Regions from separate parts of the Homo sapiens genome. Here region 2 is linked to region 1. Evidence: fine-mapped expression QTL. Tissue or cell type: cerebral cortex. Region 1 holds a variant in brackets; the other region holds the start of a gene. All regions are shown on one strand. Distances are from middle to middle.

The links. PIP is the estimated chance that this variant, and not a neighbour inherited with it, causes the effect.
Region 2: it holds the start of ANGEL1, and the variant in region 1 is fine-mapped to the expression of ANGEL1 in cerebral cortex (GTEx, PIP 0.93).

The regions. Positions count from the first base shown.
Region 1 is chr14:75,940,384-75,948,400 of GRCh38, forward strand. The region is part of intron 31 of TTLL5 (tubulin tyrosine ligase like 5); the gene reads left to right. Among named protein-coding and RNA genes, the nearest start is that of TGFB3, 38 kb to the right of the region's middle. The variant C/G (reference allele first, on the strand shown) is at 4,783.
Region 2 is chr14:76,809,363-76,816,890 of GRCh38, forward strand. ANGEL1 (angel homolog 1) reads right to left here and starts at 3,520. Exons shown (of 10, transcript NM_015305.4): 1 at 3,402-3,520; 2 at 1-281. The coding sequence starts at 3,465. RefSeq lists enhancers at 2,561-3,135, 3,136-3,709 and a silencer at 3,158-3,587.

The DNA of each region.
Region 1 (8,017 bases):
TAAATCTTTTTAAGAAAGTGAAGAAACTCTTCATAAAAGAAACTCTCCTTTTAATAATTCAGCCATTTATTTTATAAATCTAGGTTTTACATGTTTATATAAAAATACACCAGATATACTCAAGTAGGTTATGCTTCGAAACTAGCATGGTAGATACATCATAGAATTAGATCCCAAGAACATTGATTTTAGTCAGCCTTAAAATTTTTAAATTTTCATAACAGGGTGGTTATTAAGTATTCTTATGCCAAAAAACCTCTGTCAAACATGTTAATCAGTCTTCCATTAGGATACTTACTATCTAAATGTAGTTACAAAAAGAAACACTTTTCACTGAATGACATTTGAAAGTCTTTCAGAGATTTATATCTCTCTATTCCGTGATAAAATGTTATCATGCCCATCTGATGGGTTTATTATAATAAAATAATCCAGAATAGGGGGAACATGGTTTTTTACAGGTTTGTGAGACTTAAGTATATCTTCAGAAATGAGTTATGTGCATTTTTCTTAGAAGAATTAGGCTTGTTGTATTAATGACTATAATTCTTTATAGTAGAATTCCTTAAAATAGCATTGTATTAAAATTATTCAACACTCATTTGCGAGTAGAAAGGAAATCTTCCCCCATAGATGGACACTTGAGCTCTTGTTGGTTTTAGCATCTGAACTGAACCAGATGCCTGCATTACTCATGAGAAATTAAAAAGGATTTCTGGGAGGCCATGAGGGCTTGGTGGTGCTGCTGTAGTCAGCGGCTCCCATGTCCCATGTGGCTGCATTGCAGAGTTCCTTGGGCTGTCTTTGCTCTGAACAAACCCCTTGCAGCTGTGCCCGGCGCCTTTGTGACAACCCAGGCAAGGTTTCATGAAATGGATCTGATGTTCTTGTGCCTGTGTTATTCATTCCAACATACTGGAGCTATGCCCAGGAAGGTGAGGGGCAGCAGGTTGGCCCACACACCCCAGCTGTCCGTTTCTACTAATGTCACTCAGGATATAAATAAATTGATTCATTCACTTCCTTTCTTATCAAACCAGAATGTTGCCAGAAGATACTACCAGGGCTGCCCAGATCAGTTGGAAAGGCCTTAGGGACAAATCTTTAAGAGGTAAACGTCTTTGCATTTAGGTAATATTTTAAATTAAGTTTTTAATTTTATTTTTCTTATTCACTTCAGACCTTGGAGGGAGAAAAATAACTTTGGTTATATGTTCATAACATTTGAGGTTTGAGCCTTCTTTATTTGTCCCATTTTCCAGATAGGAATTTTTTCTTTTTACTGTATTCTTTTTTTCTGAGACAGGTTCTTGCTGTGTTGCCCAGGCTGGTCTTGAATCCTGAACTCTTGAGCTCAAGTGATTCTCCCTCCTCAGCCTCCTAAGCTGGGATTATAGGTATGTATCACCACACCTGCCTGGCTTAGGGCCTTCTTTATTGGCAGAAAATTCATGATGAACTTTTTTTTTTTTTTTTTTTTTTTTCTGAACTGGAAAAGCTATGAGTCATAGGATTTCATAAAAATGCGGTGGCTCACACCTGTAATCCCAGCACTTTGGGAGCCGAGGCAGGCGGATCACGAGGTCAGGAGATCAAGACCATCCTGGCTAACATGGTGAAACCCATCTCTACTAAAAATACAAAAAAACTAGCCAGGTGTGTGGTGGCTGGTGCCTGTAGTCCCAGCTACTTGGGAGGCTGAGGCAGGAGAATGGCTTGAACCAGGGAGGCGGAGCTTGCAGTGAGCTGAGATCATGCCACTGCACTCCATCCTGGGCTACAGAGCAAGACTCTGTCTCAAAAAAAAAAAAAAAATGTGTATCCCTTAACCTTCAGACAGCTGATGAGTGGTAGAAGCACTGGCCTGGAAGTACAGATTGCCGCTTACCACATCAGGCCTTTTGTTGTTTGTAGAAGCCTAGTTTGTATTGTTAGTTGGAAGTCTTTTGCCACCCATAGGGTAACAGCGCTATTGATCATCAGTCAATCAACTATTTACCAAGCAGCTCTCATGTAAATATTTATAAGGCAAAATGCTGGGTGCCCTGGGTCATGTGAAAATTTGTAAGATGCGATCTCAGCACTTAAGAGTGTAGCAGTGAAAATAAGCAGTATATGCAAGACAAAGTCCCTCCCCATGTGCCTCCAAATGATAAAAGAAACAATGATTTAGATCGTTTAGGAGGGTCTCTCCACCATTCCTCTCAGGTAACTTATGCTTCCAAATGAGCACGACATGTGAATCTGCTCTTGGCTTCAATGGTTCTTCATTCCTAGGTGATTCTCATAGTGCAGTTTACCTTGGCAAATGTTGATCACAATGTCTAAAAATACTTGCATTCTCTATGGCCTAAACACAAGCCAGTCATGTTAGTTGGGTGCTAACGAAAGAACAGAAGGATGGAAGTATAAGTGTGTTTGTTGGACTCCCTGATAGTTGCCGAACTGGCATGATGTATTTTACAGGTGCTTTAAGACTTTTTAGGGTAGTTCTGAATATATTTTATGTTTGTGTTGCTTGTTGACTTTAGGACTAACATAATAAGACATAACTTCATTTATTTCATAAATGCCAAGTGAGTGTATAAAGACAGTATTATCTGTAGACATTTGGCCAAAAAAAGACAGAATTTCCAGGCCAAGCCATTAAAGCAAAAATAAAGATGGGTTAGCTACAGTGGCTGGTATTTCAAAGTCCCACAAAAAAAAGGCGGTGTCGGGGAAGAGCTGGGCTGTAGTCGTGGTCATAGAGGCAGTGAGGGAAAAATGCAGTAACATCGTTGTTCTGTATACCTCTCCTGCTCTTATGACCCCGTCACTGGATCACCAGGCAGGAGTTAGGATTGAAGTGACTCTGTACCCGAATTATGGCAGGATGTAAGGGACAATAGGCAAATCTTAAGGTGAAGAGTCTAGAGGAGACCCTTCTAGACTGGGACCCCAGAGTGCCAGCTATAGTCTCCATATGTAAGTCAACTAGAAATAAGCCCTCCCTCTCGTCCACCCTTCAGTCCCTCAGGCATTGAAAGATAACTGGCTATCTGGAAACTTGGTGCTAAATGGAGTGGAGAAGGGGAATCTCCCCTGGTAATTTATAACCACAAGCTGGACCCCTTGTAAGCTTGGGCATGAATTCACATTCTGGAGGTAGCCTGAAAAACTTCAGACTGAGAGTTTAAGGTGGTCCTAAGGCACCTAGCAGAATCAAATGCATGTTTTATCTGGAGGAATCCTCCTCCAACCCAAACCTCAAATAATTCCCACAGGTAAAGTTTTGTGAGATCAGAGTTTAAAATCACAAAACAAATAAAGAAACATGGCACCATGAGCAAAGCCAGCAAAATAATAGATAACAGTGTTAGACTAAGATAATTGAAATTGCCAAATAGTGCAAAATAACTTTTCTCATATGTTTAGAGAAATTAAAAGAGAGAGTAAACCAAGAGATTAAAATTATGACCAAGCAGATTTGAAATAGAACTAAGTAACTCTTTTGGAATTGGAAAATAATAATAATTAAAGTTTAAAAATCCATGGATGGGCCTACCTGCAGATTTGACCCAGTTCATTGAAGAGAGCTTTAATGAACTCAAAGATGGATTTAAAGAAATGATCTGGGCACTTGTCTTTCGAGTCGCCTGCTTAGCCCTCTTCTAAGTGTGCTTTCCTTCCTGCTCTGAAGCTTTTTGATAAACTTTCCCTCCTGCTCTAAAACTTGCCTTGGTCTCTTCTTCTGCCTTATGCCCCTCAGTCAAATTCTTTCTTCTGAGGAGGCAATAATTGAGGCTGCGGCAGACCTGTACAGATACAGATTCACTGCCGCTAACATATTTTGGTGCCATGTGACTTGGATACCTTCCGCCGGTAACATACTTTGCTGTGTGACTCGAATACATTCCCTACTTGCCATCAAGCTTCAGATGATCCTCAGTGAGGGACACCATCCTCTCAATATTCAAGAGTCACCCTTCTACAAAGGACCCCTAGACTGCCCATCAGTGGAACAAACAGAGGCACAATCTTGCCCCTGTCTCCCTTGGGCCTGGCTGGATCCCACTTTCACCAACCCACGGAGCCTCCCTGCCCTGACAGCTAGCAACAGGCCAAAACCCACAGAACAGCCAACTACCACCTGTCAGTGGAAAGCAGTTACAGAAGACTGACCTTCATCCATTTTCCCCAAAGAATTGGGATCTTGGACTCTTGAGTCAGGAAAGGTTACAGTAGGTAGTCAGACATGAGCAGGGCAAGAGAGGGCTCCTGCCCTACCCCTTCCCACCACAACCAGGAATGTCAGGTGACCATCAGGTGATGATCAGGCAGTTGTTGAAACTGTCTCTCTAAAATAATAATCAGTTGCAGCCAGCACCAGGGAAAGGCAGTCTCCTTATAGATAGGAAAAACCTGAAACTAGTGATTAGTAGCTTCCTGATAAGATCTCAGGAGTTGGGGGAGTGGGCTTGAGCATGTGCACTAAGAGGCAAAATGGCGGCCTTTAACTGGCATATGACCTCCTAGGGACATTTGGCTGGTAAGGGAAAAACGCTTCAAGTGAGCATGCGTACAACTCCAGTAAACACACTGTGCATGCTCATCTCCCAAGTGCTAGCAGACCACTGCATCTGCATATGTGGACAGCCCACTCCAAGGGAAAAACCAGGGGAGAAGAGATGCAAGACGCCAGAAGTATGCCAGCATATAAAACCCCAAGTCAGAAGGTCAAACCTCATACTTGATCTCTCAAGCCACCTGCTTGGCCCTCTTCCAAGTGTACTTTCCTTC[C/G]TTTTGTTCCTGCTCTAAAGCTTTTATAGATATATAATATATATTACATATATTATTTTATAATATGTATTTTTTATAATATATATTATATATAAAAAAAAATTTTTTTTGAGACGGAGTCTTGCTCTGTCCCCAGGCTGGAGTACAGTGGCACGATCTTGGCTCGCTGCAACCTCCACCCACTAGGCTCAAGTGATTCTCCTGCCTCAGCCTCCTGAGTAGCTGGGACTACAGGTGCGTGCCACCATGCTCGGCTGATTTTTATATTTTTAGTAGAGACGGGGTGTCACCATGTTGGTCAGGATGATCTCGATCTCTTGACCTCATGATCTGCCCGCCTCAGCCTCCCAAAGTGCTGGGATTACAGACATAAGCCACTGCACTTGGCCTTCTAAAGTTTTTTAATAAACATTCCCTTCTGCCCAAAAAATAATAATAAATTGAAAAATAAATGATTGGGAATGCAGCACAGAAAGAAAAAGAGGTGGAAAGCCATTTGAGAAGGCCTAATAAATATCTAATTGGAGCTCTGGAAAGAAAAAATGGGACAACATTTGAAGAGATAATGGCTAAAAATTTTCCACAACTAGTGAAAGATACACATATTGCAGTGAATCACAAGAAATCCACACCTAGACACATCATACTTTAGAGCACTAAGGTCAAAAGATGTTAAAGCAGCTGGAGGGAGTGGAAGGATTACCAGAGCAATTCCAGTCTGATTGACAGCTAACTTCTCAGCAGCAAAGATGGAAACAAAAATACAGTGTAATGTTGCCATTGAGGAAAGGAAATAATTACCAAACCATAAATGTATTCTAAGCAAAAATATCTTTCATGAATGAGGATGAAACACATTTTCCAACACATAACACGCAAAAGAGTTTGTCACTAGTAGACCTTTGCCAAGGAGTCTAAAGAATGTATTTCAGACAGAGGAAGGTATTATAATACCAGAAGAAAGGTCTGAAATGCAGGAGGAATTGGGGGCAACATAATGAGCAACAAAATGATGATAATGTTCTTGTGAGGTTAAAAAGAAAATGAAAATGTCCAAACCATCATATCATGTAACTCAAGGAGAGCAGATGTTCAAAATTAAAGTCATTTAAGTTCATACTGTACAGTGAAAAGGTAAAGTTATTGATGAATTTTACCTTTATATAGTTAACATATACAATTGTTAAATGAATAAAGTATTTAAAAAAATAGAAAACTTCCAAAGTAGCAGAGAGAAAGTGGAATGAGATAGAGAATAAATCCACAAGGAGGAAAAGGAAACATGGAAGAGGTAGAACAAATAGAAAGCACAGCTTAAAACAGTACGAACAAATAAAAGTATTGGCCCTTTCCAAAATGTGAGTTGACTCAATGTTCCAGTGAAGGTCAAAGACTGATTGATTCATGAATGCAACAAATATGGACCAAGCATCTTCTGTGTGTTCAGCACTATTCTAGGCACTAGGCACAAGCCGTGGAGCAGTGAGCAAAACAGCCAAAAATCCCCAATAGGAGAGACAAACAACAGACCAAATAAGTAACACAAACCGTACATGAGAATGTGGGAAATGTTCTAGAGAGAAAAAAAAAAACAACAACACAGTGAAAGAAGGTAGAGAATGGGGAGGTTCGCTATTCTAAATAAAGTAGAGAAAGTGGCCTTTGCGGTGAGAACTGAAGAAGGGGGAATAAGCTGGCAGATATGGATGGAAGGGAACTCCAGGTGGAGGGAACAGCGGGAGCTCATGCCTGGAGGGAGGGATGTGGCTGCTGTGATTGGGAAATTCAAGTGGAGCTGTCATGTTGCACGAGAGAGCAGAGGAGAGTGAGAACAGATGAGGCTGAGAGATGACAAGGGGCCAGATCATGCAGGCCCTGGGGGCCAAGGAGAGGACTTGGCGCTTGTCTTCTGAGTGTAGTGGTAGCCATCAAGGAATTCTGAGCAGAGGATTTCACAGGATGGCTGTGGCTGCTATATCAGGCAGGGACAAGGTGGGAACAGTGGAGGGAAGAGAAAATGGCCAACCAGAAATAGTTATATTGTCAGCCTGGATTTTTAAAAAATAGACTTTTAGGCTATTAAAACAAGAAAATCTTACATAGGCATATATAAAGGATCAAAGAAAAAGGTTGGAAAAAGATATATTGGGGAAATACCAACCAAACGAAAGCTGATGTAGCTATATTTATCAGACAAAATAGATTTTCAGGCAAAAAAGCATAACAAGAAATAAAGAGGGTCACTACATTATGGCTAAAGGTTCACCAAGAAAGTGCTCAACCTTTTCTCGTCAACTTACTTTAACTAGTATATTTAATGTTTTTTTCATTTAATAAATACATATTTATGAAAAGTACATTGGGCAAAAAATTAACAGAACCATAAGAAAAATAGATAAATCTAGCTTTATATTGGAAGGTTTTAATGTAACTCAGTAATTGCTAGATTGAGCAGTCTGATAATAAGTAATGTTTCTGATAATAAGAACATTTAAGAGGCTGTGCATAGTGGTTCACACCCATAAACCCAGCACTTTGGGAGGCTAAGGCAGGAGTATCACTCTAGCCCAGGAGTTTGAGACCAGTCTGGGCAACAAAGTGAGACCGTCTCTCCAAAAAAATCGAAAAATTAGCTGGGCGTGGTGTGTGCCTGTGGTTCCAGCCACATGGGAGGCTGGCGCATCCCCATGCTTGAGCCCAGGAGGTTTAGGCTGCAGTGAGCTGTGTTCATGCCACTGCACTCCAGCCTGGGCAACAGAGCAAGACCCTGTCTCAAAAAAAAAAAAAAATCGAAATTTTAACTACATCATTAACAGGCTTGATCTCATAGGCGTGTATACAACATCACACTAAATAACTGCATAATGCACATTCTTTGCAATCTTCTATGGGGGAGTTGCAGAAACTACGTAGTAGGCCTTAAATCACATTTCAAACACTACATTCCTTGACCATAACGCAATAACAAAAAGATACTGGAAAAGTCCTCATATTTTTGGAAATTAAGAAAGAGTTAACTAATTTAAAAATCATAATTGGCGGGGCACAGTGGTTCACACCTGTAACCCCTGCGCTTTGGGAGGCCAAGACGGGTGGATCACCTGAGGTCAGGAGTTCGAGACCAGCCTGGCCAACATGCTGAAACCCTGTCTCTACTAAAAATACAAAAATTAGCCGGGTGTGGTAGTGGGCACCTGTAAGCCTAGCTACTCGGGAGGCTGAGGCAGGAGAATGG
Region 2 (7,528 bases), 870 kb after region 1:
ACTCAGCTGCCTGCTGGACCACCTGTCCTCTGAAGCAGCATTCTCTTCTCCAGGATTATCCATCAGAAGTGCCAGGCTGCTCTGGGCTAGTCCTTTATCTATAAGGGGCCCCTCACTTGCAGTTGAGAGCACCTGGCTCAACCCTTCTTCTCGCCACTGCTGCAGCAGGCCCTCACATTCCTCCTGCTCAGGGCCCCGAGGGGCCATGGCAAAGTCGCCCTCTACCTGGGGGGATGAGCTGTTCGCCAGAAGGACATTTTTTCGACATGTGAAGAAAGCATCTAGGAGGAAAGCCAAAATACCAGGTTATAAGACTGTCATCCAACCCACACTATTCTCCCAGCTAAAACATAAGCCCAATAAAAGCAAGACCCATATCCACCTTGCTCATCATTGTACCATCACTGAGCCTGCCTACCTTAATGCCTGAACATCATCATCATCATCAGGGCAAAGTATTCACTATGTGCCAGGCACTGTTCTTTACAAGTGTTGACTAATTTATATGGCAGGGATCTGATAAATATTCAGTGCATGAAAGAACAGCTGTCTCACATAATCTAGAACACAGATGGGCACATATACCCACACTCCTTTTACATGACTTAGTTAAGACTACTATTAACAAACTCTTTGGTTCTAAGAATCACATTACATTGCAACCAGCAACTGACTGTTAATCAGAACTGTGGGTTATGATCTAGCACCAAAATTAATAAAACTGACCTTGAACAATGCCCCTAGTCAGATGAAGTTACTCTTGACTGTAAAATGGGGACAAGAGGCCAGGCGTGGTGGCTCCCAGCACTTTGGGAGGCAGAGACAGAGGCAGCAGGATCACTTGAGGCCAGGAGTTAGAGACCAGCCTGGGCAACATAACGAAACTTCATCTCTACAAAAAATTAAAAATTAGCCAAGTACGGTGGCACATGCCCATGGTCCTAGCTACTTGGGAGGCTGAAATGAGAGGATTGCTTGAGCCCAGGTTGACGCTGCAGTGAGCTATGACTGCCCTTCTGCACTCCCGCCTGGGAGACAAAGTGAGACCTCATCTCAAAAAAAAAAAGAAAAGAAAAGAAAAAAATAAATTTTAAATTTAAAAAAATAGAGACAAGTTTGAACTAGATAATCTCTGAGCTTTTCTAGCTGTATAAATTCCCTAATCTATTAATGTATTCCAAAAGAAAAAGTCCTAAAGTAGACAGTCTCAAAAATCTATACAATTTACATCTTAGCAAGGGCCCTTAAGCCTTTTCTCAAAGCTACTTATTGTAATAAAATCTTCACAAACTTCATTATCTGCTTTCCCATTCCACAACACATCAGAGGCTATAAATTACAAGGTGCCAACAATCGACAGTAAGAGACAGCTGACATCTCTCTGATACTGCAGCCACCAATGACAGCCAACAGGCAAGAAAGAAAGTGGGAAAAACTCTAAAATTAGAGCCCCCAAACTCTGAGCACAGTATTTTGGTGAGAGCAAACAACTCCTACACTCACACACTCAACCATTTATTTACAGCACAGGACGAGTAACATGCACGATGCTGGCCCTCAATCACTAGACTCATTTTATTGGCAATTTTTTTTTAAAGGGAAGAAACCTTAAAAGTGGCTCAAATATTGAAAGACGGTTCAAATATCTTGTTTGGGGTCTATGTATATTTATGTCCTTCTAAACAATGGTTTTAACCACGGTGATTTTGCCCTCGGAAGACATTTAGCAACGTTCAGAGACACTGTTGTTGTCACAACTGCAGCATTGCTACTGGCATCTAGTGGTTAGAGGACAGAGACGCTGCTGAACTTCCAACAATTCACAGGACAGACCCACACCAAATGATCCGGTCCAAAACGTCAACAGTGCTGAGATTGAGAAACCCTGCTCTAAACCTATGTATGGGCTGGGTCGTTGAGCTTTAGCCTCAAGGACTTCCTGATTATCTGCCCCTTGAAATATCCTCTGTGTATACCAGATGGCAGAGGTTCTTTGGTTCATATGCACGAAGTTACTAGCTTTCAATTTTGGTAGATGTCTTTTGGTGGTGGTGGTGGTGGATTTTCAGCAGCAGAATGCTTTTGTTTTTTAAAAATCTTATCTGGAAACCAAATATGCCAAGTAAATATAAGTGGGACTACTGTAATGTGTAGGTGGGGGGGCGGGGGGGGCCCTCCTCTGAGATCCCTAGAACTCTACTGGTCTGGAAACCTCTGGACTAGTATACTGTATCACTAAGGCATTAGAAGAGCTCCAGGAAAAACAGCAACATAGTTAAAAGAATATGTTTAGTTCTCTGGAAACAATTACTTCTGTGGAGTTTCCCACATTCCTCAGAAGTATGGACACACAAGACATTCCTGAATTCACTGAGTGCCTACTGTATACCAAGCAATGTGTTAACACCAGAGATACAGCGAACAAAATGGACGTGGCCCTGCGCTCCTGAAGTTTGCATTCTAATGGCAGATACACAGTAAAATTTAAAATATTTCTATATGAAATATATATTATCAATGACACACACATTGCGTACCAATTGTGTAAAGTTCCACAAAGGAAAACCACAGAATATACAATTGGAGCCCTCATTCCTAAGTACTTCTTGGTCCTGTCCCATAAATTAAAGGCAAAAAGTCTGCGAGTTCCATGGGATCTCAGAAACTGATGGTCGCATAAAACCCTCCGTAATTTCAAAGCCCAGAAATAGAGAATGCAGACAAATTATGAAACAATAACGAAATAAACACCCCCTCTTTGAGGTATCGACTGGGCATTGCCCCCACCCCAGCACATCTCCCTCTAAACCGCCGGGAGTGGGGGCAGGAATGCTCCAAAGCTGAGATCTAAATGTGTCTCTGATTGAACGTCCGTTTTTCAACCAAAGACACCGGTGAGCGAGAGCTGCCAGGTGGCAGTGAAAGGCGAGTGTGAAGTTAACCTGGGGAAGATCGGTGCGTCCAGTACTTCGGCCATAAACCTCCCAGAGCCGACCCGCCTCGCCCGCTGAGAATTTGGGCACTCGCCTAGGTCCGAGCTACTACCCCTTCCCGACCCGCCGGGGTGCTGACTTGGCCGACCCCACAATTTCTCTGCACCCCCAGGGCCAGGAAAGGGCCCTGCCCGTCCACAGCTCCTCTCCACCTTAACCGCGGCCGGACGCCATCTGACAACAGGCGGGAGGAGGGGCCGCCCACGAGGGACGTCGGCCAGGTCCAGGCCTCGTGGGGTCAGGAGGGGCCCGCGGGGCAGGGGCTCAGGACCGCCTCCCTACACCTCGGCACTGCCCGGGGCACGGTAGTCGTGAGGCCCGGCCAACCGCACGCCGCCCCAGGCCCGCGGAGCCCCGCAGAGGCGAGCCCTGGCCGGGCTCCTGTCTGTCGGTACGCCTGGCCGGTACCTGAGAGGGCGCGGAAGAGGCGCGTGGCCGGCAGCAGCAGGTAACACAAGCACGACGCGATCATGGCCGGCCGCCCGCGCCCGCCTCCGCTCCTCACTGCAGCCAGCAGGTCCTCCCTCAGCTCGGCCCCGCCCCCGGCCCGGTCCGGCCCACGTGGTGCCGCCGCCGCGCTTCAACAACAACTTTATTGGGAGCGCAGGTCTACGGGTGCGCACGCAGGAAGTGGGAGGAGCCGGTTCCCATGGCAACTAGCCACCCCTAGCACCCGGCTGCCACCCAGGCGTCCCGAATTAAAATTGAGCGCCTCACTGGAGGCCCCATAGTGTTATTCAAAGGCCACAGTTTATTCCCACTTCTGCAGCTGACTAGGTGTCCACCTTGTTACCACACTATAGCCTCTCCGCCCCTCAGTTTCCTCACCTGTAAAATGAAGAGCTGGACTTTCTCTAAGGCTCCACTGAACCTTGACTTCTAGCCCTTCTCGACCCAGAAAGGAAGCGAGTTATTCCCCCATTTCCCCCGTTTTCCTGCCTCTACTTCCCTGTCTCAGATTCTAGGTCACAAATTGAGTCCTACCTTGCTTCAGGAAGTAAGACTTTGTCTCCTTCCCTACTTTCTAAACGGGCCTTCTTTTCCCTAATCTAGAAAAACAGGGTTTCCCATTGGTAAGGAAGTCAAGAAAGAAAGGAGAGAGGACAAAGAGAGGAGAGAGAGAAGGGAGAGAGGAGAGAGACAGAAGAGAGAAACTTCCACAAGGCCAGGGACCAGTTCTGGCTGGTTGTTTGCTCACTTTGAGGTATCTCTAATACAATCCAAGCACCTATTGTAACCAAGTACCCAGCTTGGAAGTTATATTCTTGTTATATACTTCTATTTCTTTATTTTTGTTCAGTTAACCACTAGGCACCCCCCGACACCCCAGCACCCCCCATACACACTGTTAGCATATCTAATTGTATGTTCGCTTAAAAGTTCCAGAGACTAAATCTTGAAACAATATAGGCATCTGTGGAAATCTCCACCAGGAGATTGATTCAAGGCTACAGTTAATTTATAACTCAGCCCAGCCCGAGATGATGCCAGCCCATTCACCAGATGGGCAGTAACTCAAGACAAGTCATCAGAACTCGTCATGAAGACCTGCACTGCCTCACCCCTTGCATACCCTCCATGCCAAAACTTCTTAAAGCCTCGCATTTTGCTTGGAAATGTGAAGCAGCTCCATTAAAGCAAAAGCCTGGATCGTTTTTCCCCACTGCTAGCTTTGGTTTATAATAAAGTCAGTCTCCTTCTACCATACCACGACCTTGCTCGTTGGTTTTGCAAGCGGCCGAATCTGCATTCGCTAGCACTACTAGCCACCACATAAGCCTTTACTGACTGGTTGAACAAAGCATATGTCACTAAATGAAGGCCAGTTCTGCCATCACTTCTGTGCCACCTGCGACCTCTTTGAGTCTCTCTTCCCCAGTCCCCCTCCCCCAATCTTCTACCCCAAACAGGCTCTGAAGGAGGGACTGGACAATGCACCCAGTTTCAGTACCCAGTGTCTGAGTTGCACGATTTCCAGTTTGTGGCTGGAGCCTTGGTTGTTCAGGGAAGCCTTCTGGGGAGTCACCAGATCCTGGACCAGCTGGGTACATCATAACACTGAAAGGCTAATAGGAGGAAGAAGGAGAGAGTTAGTATTGTGGCCTTCCCACTACTTACCCTTAGTTCTAGAGGTGGCAATGTCTGCCTGCCTTCAGGCAACAGCACTTATCCCTTTGAGATGAAACAGAGGCCCAGCAATCTGAAGGTTGGGAAGCTGCTTAGAAATTAGTGCACAAATGGTGGATCTACCAAAGGCGCTCCCGAGGTCAGGCCCCCTCCTTTGATGTAGCTTAAGTAAAACCCTCCTTGTACCCTCCTTCCATTTTGTACCATGAGTTATCCAGAAGTCCAAGTTCCAAATCAGATCCTAATCAAGGGTAACGGTTCCCTTATCTCCACTGGGAAAATGCTTTCAAAATACAAATTTCTAGGCCCTACTCCCAGAGTTCTGATTTAGCAGCCCTGGAATGAGGCCCTTAAACACTTACTTATTCCAATGCACGGTTTGGGAACCTCTGCTAAAGGATCCAGTCTCAACTGGGCTGTTCAGTGCACAGTGTGGGCACAATGTGTCAGCCCAACTGATCTATGTTCTTTCAGAGGCTTTTTCTGCGGCCAGTTAAGTGAGGCTTCCCTCTTTTTGTTTCCTGGTCCATAATCAGCCGTGTTGGAAGGTGTAGGGTGATATAAGGATCACAAGCTTTGGAGTTAGACCAACTGAGTTGAAATCCTGGCTCTGCCACTTTTTACCTGTGGAATCTCTCAGGTTGCCTAAGCTCTTGGGGCCTCAGTTTCCTCATTGTGCCTGACCCAGTATAAACTCTCAATGTTTACTATTACATTTTTGGATTTGGGCAGAAAAGCAGCTCCAGACGTGGCTGATGTAGGATCTTCTTCCACAATTTCTGGCTAAAATAGAGCTCCTGCCCTCCAAATTGTAATGAGTATTACTAAGCAAGCCAATAACTACAGGTTCCAAGGAGACTTGGCCGAAGGAGTGGAGCCTTAGGCTTCCCCAGTCAGAGGAAAATTACAAGTGCAATCTGCACAGTCTCCAGCCTCATTGTTTCAGAAATATCCCAAGAAGAGAGACGATTCCCTCAATTCATTCCAGCTGTGCTAACAATGAAGACAAGTATGAGCACCTGCATCCATCACTACCATGGTTTCCAGGGTGCAGAACCTATGTAATGGAGCAAGTGGGAGGTTTTGCAATACTTTGAGAGACTTAAGATGCTCTCTTAAAGGGACATTTCCAGTCTATAAGAAATTTAAGCCCTTGAGGGCTAAAATTTTACTTATGACAACAAATATATGTGGAATTCCAACAGAGTGGCTGCATTTATTAACTTATTGGTTGAACATGTGCAAATATTGGGGCGGCATAGTGCTTTCTTCAGGATTACAGAGGCTACGGACCAACGCCTGGGACAGTGCTGCCCAAAAGAAATATGTTGTGAACCACATATGCAATTTAAAATTTTCTAGTAGCCTCATGTAAAAAGTAAAAATAAATCAATTGATAAAGCAAGTGAAATTAATTAATAATATTTTATTTTACCCCATAGATCCAAAAATTTTGTATTTTAACTTGTAATCAATAGTTCAAGATGAGATATTTTATGTTCTTTTTTTGTACTAAGTCTTCAAAATCCAGTGTGTATTTTACTTGGACATCACATCTGAATTTGGACTAGCCGTATTTCAGGTTCTGAATACTGCAAGGAGCTAATAGCTACCGTACTGAACATGGGCTGTTCTGGAGAGTGCAAACAGCTTCTCAGATAGGATAGGCTGAAAAGATTTGCTCATCTTCAACTCTTACGATAACCTGAGGCCTCTACACTCCTAGTAATCTGCCTTCTCTGAGCCTGGTGTTTTCTTTGGGAATCTCAAGATTTATGACTAGGCATTCCCAGAATGTGCCAGATTAGTCTGAATTAATGCATTCATTTGCTCACTTATTCACTGATTCATGCATCCATGTGTTCATTAGAGATTTATCAGGCAGTCATCAATGTTTACCCCAACCTCACCCTTGACTTTCCTTGACCTCCTGCCCACTCCTCGATTCCTTGAAACTTCAGCCCTGGACTCACAGTCTTCTTCCCTACCTCTAGTCCTCCTGTCACCAGTGTGGATGAGCCATCCTAACCCCTGGAAGCTCATTGCCATGACCTCCTTAATGACCTTCATTTCCATGTGCTTCAGACACACCCTTCCCTGGCTGCACCTTGGATATGTCATTACTGGGCACTGTTTCCCGTCTGAAATCATAAATTCACACACCCACTCTGATGGCATGGCTTTCTCATGGCTTTCTGCCTCTCCCACTTCTACTTCATCTTTTCTTTTAACTCCATCAGACCCTTGATTTCTCTAGTCTGTCCTTCTCAAGCTTTCCCTCAGTCATCATTTCTTTCCCTATCCAACATGGAATTCCCATGACCCCTCTTTTAAATCACTCTTCCCAATATCATCAACTCTCCTGCCCACTGTTCTTAGATTATATCTGCGTGGGTCAGTAAAACTAT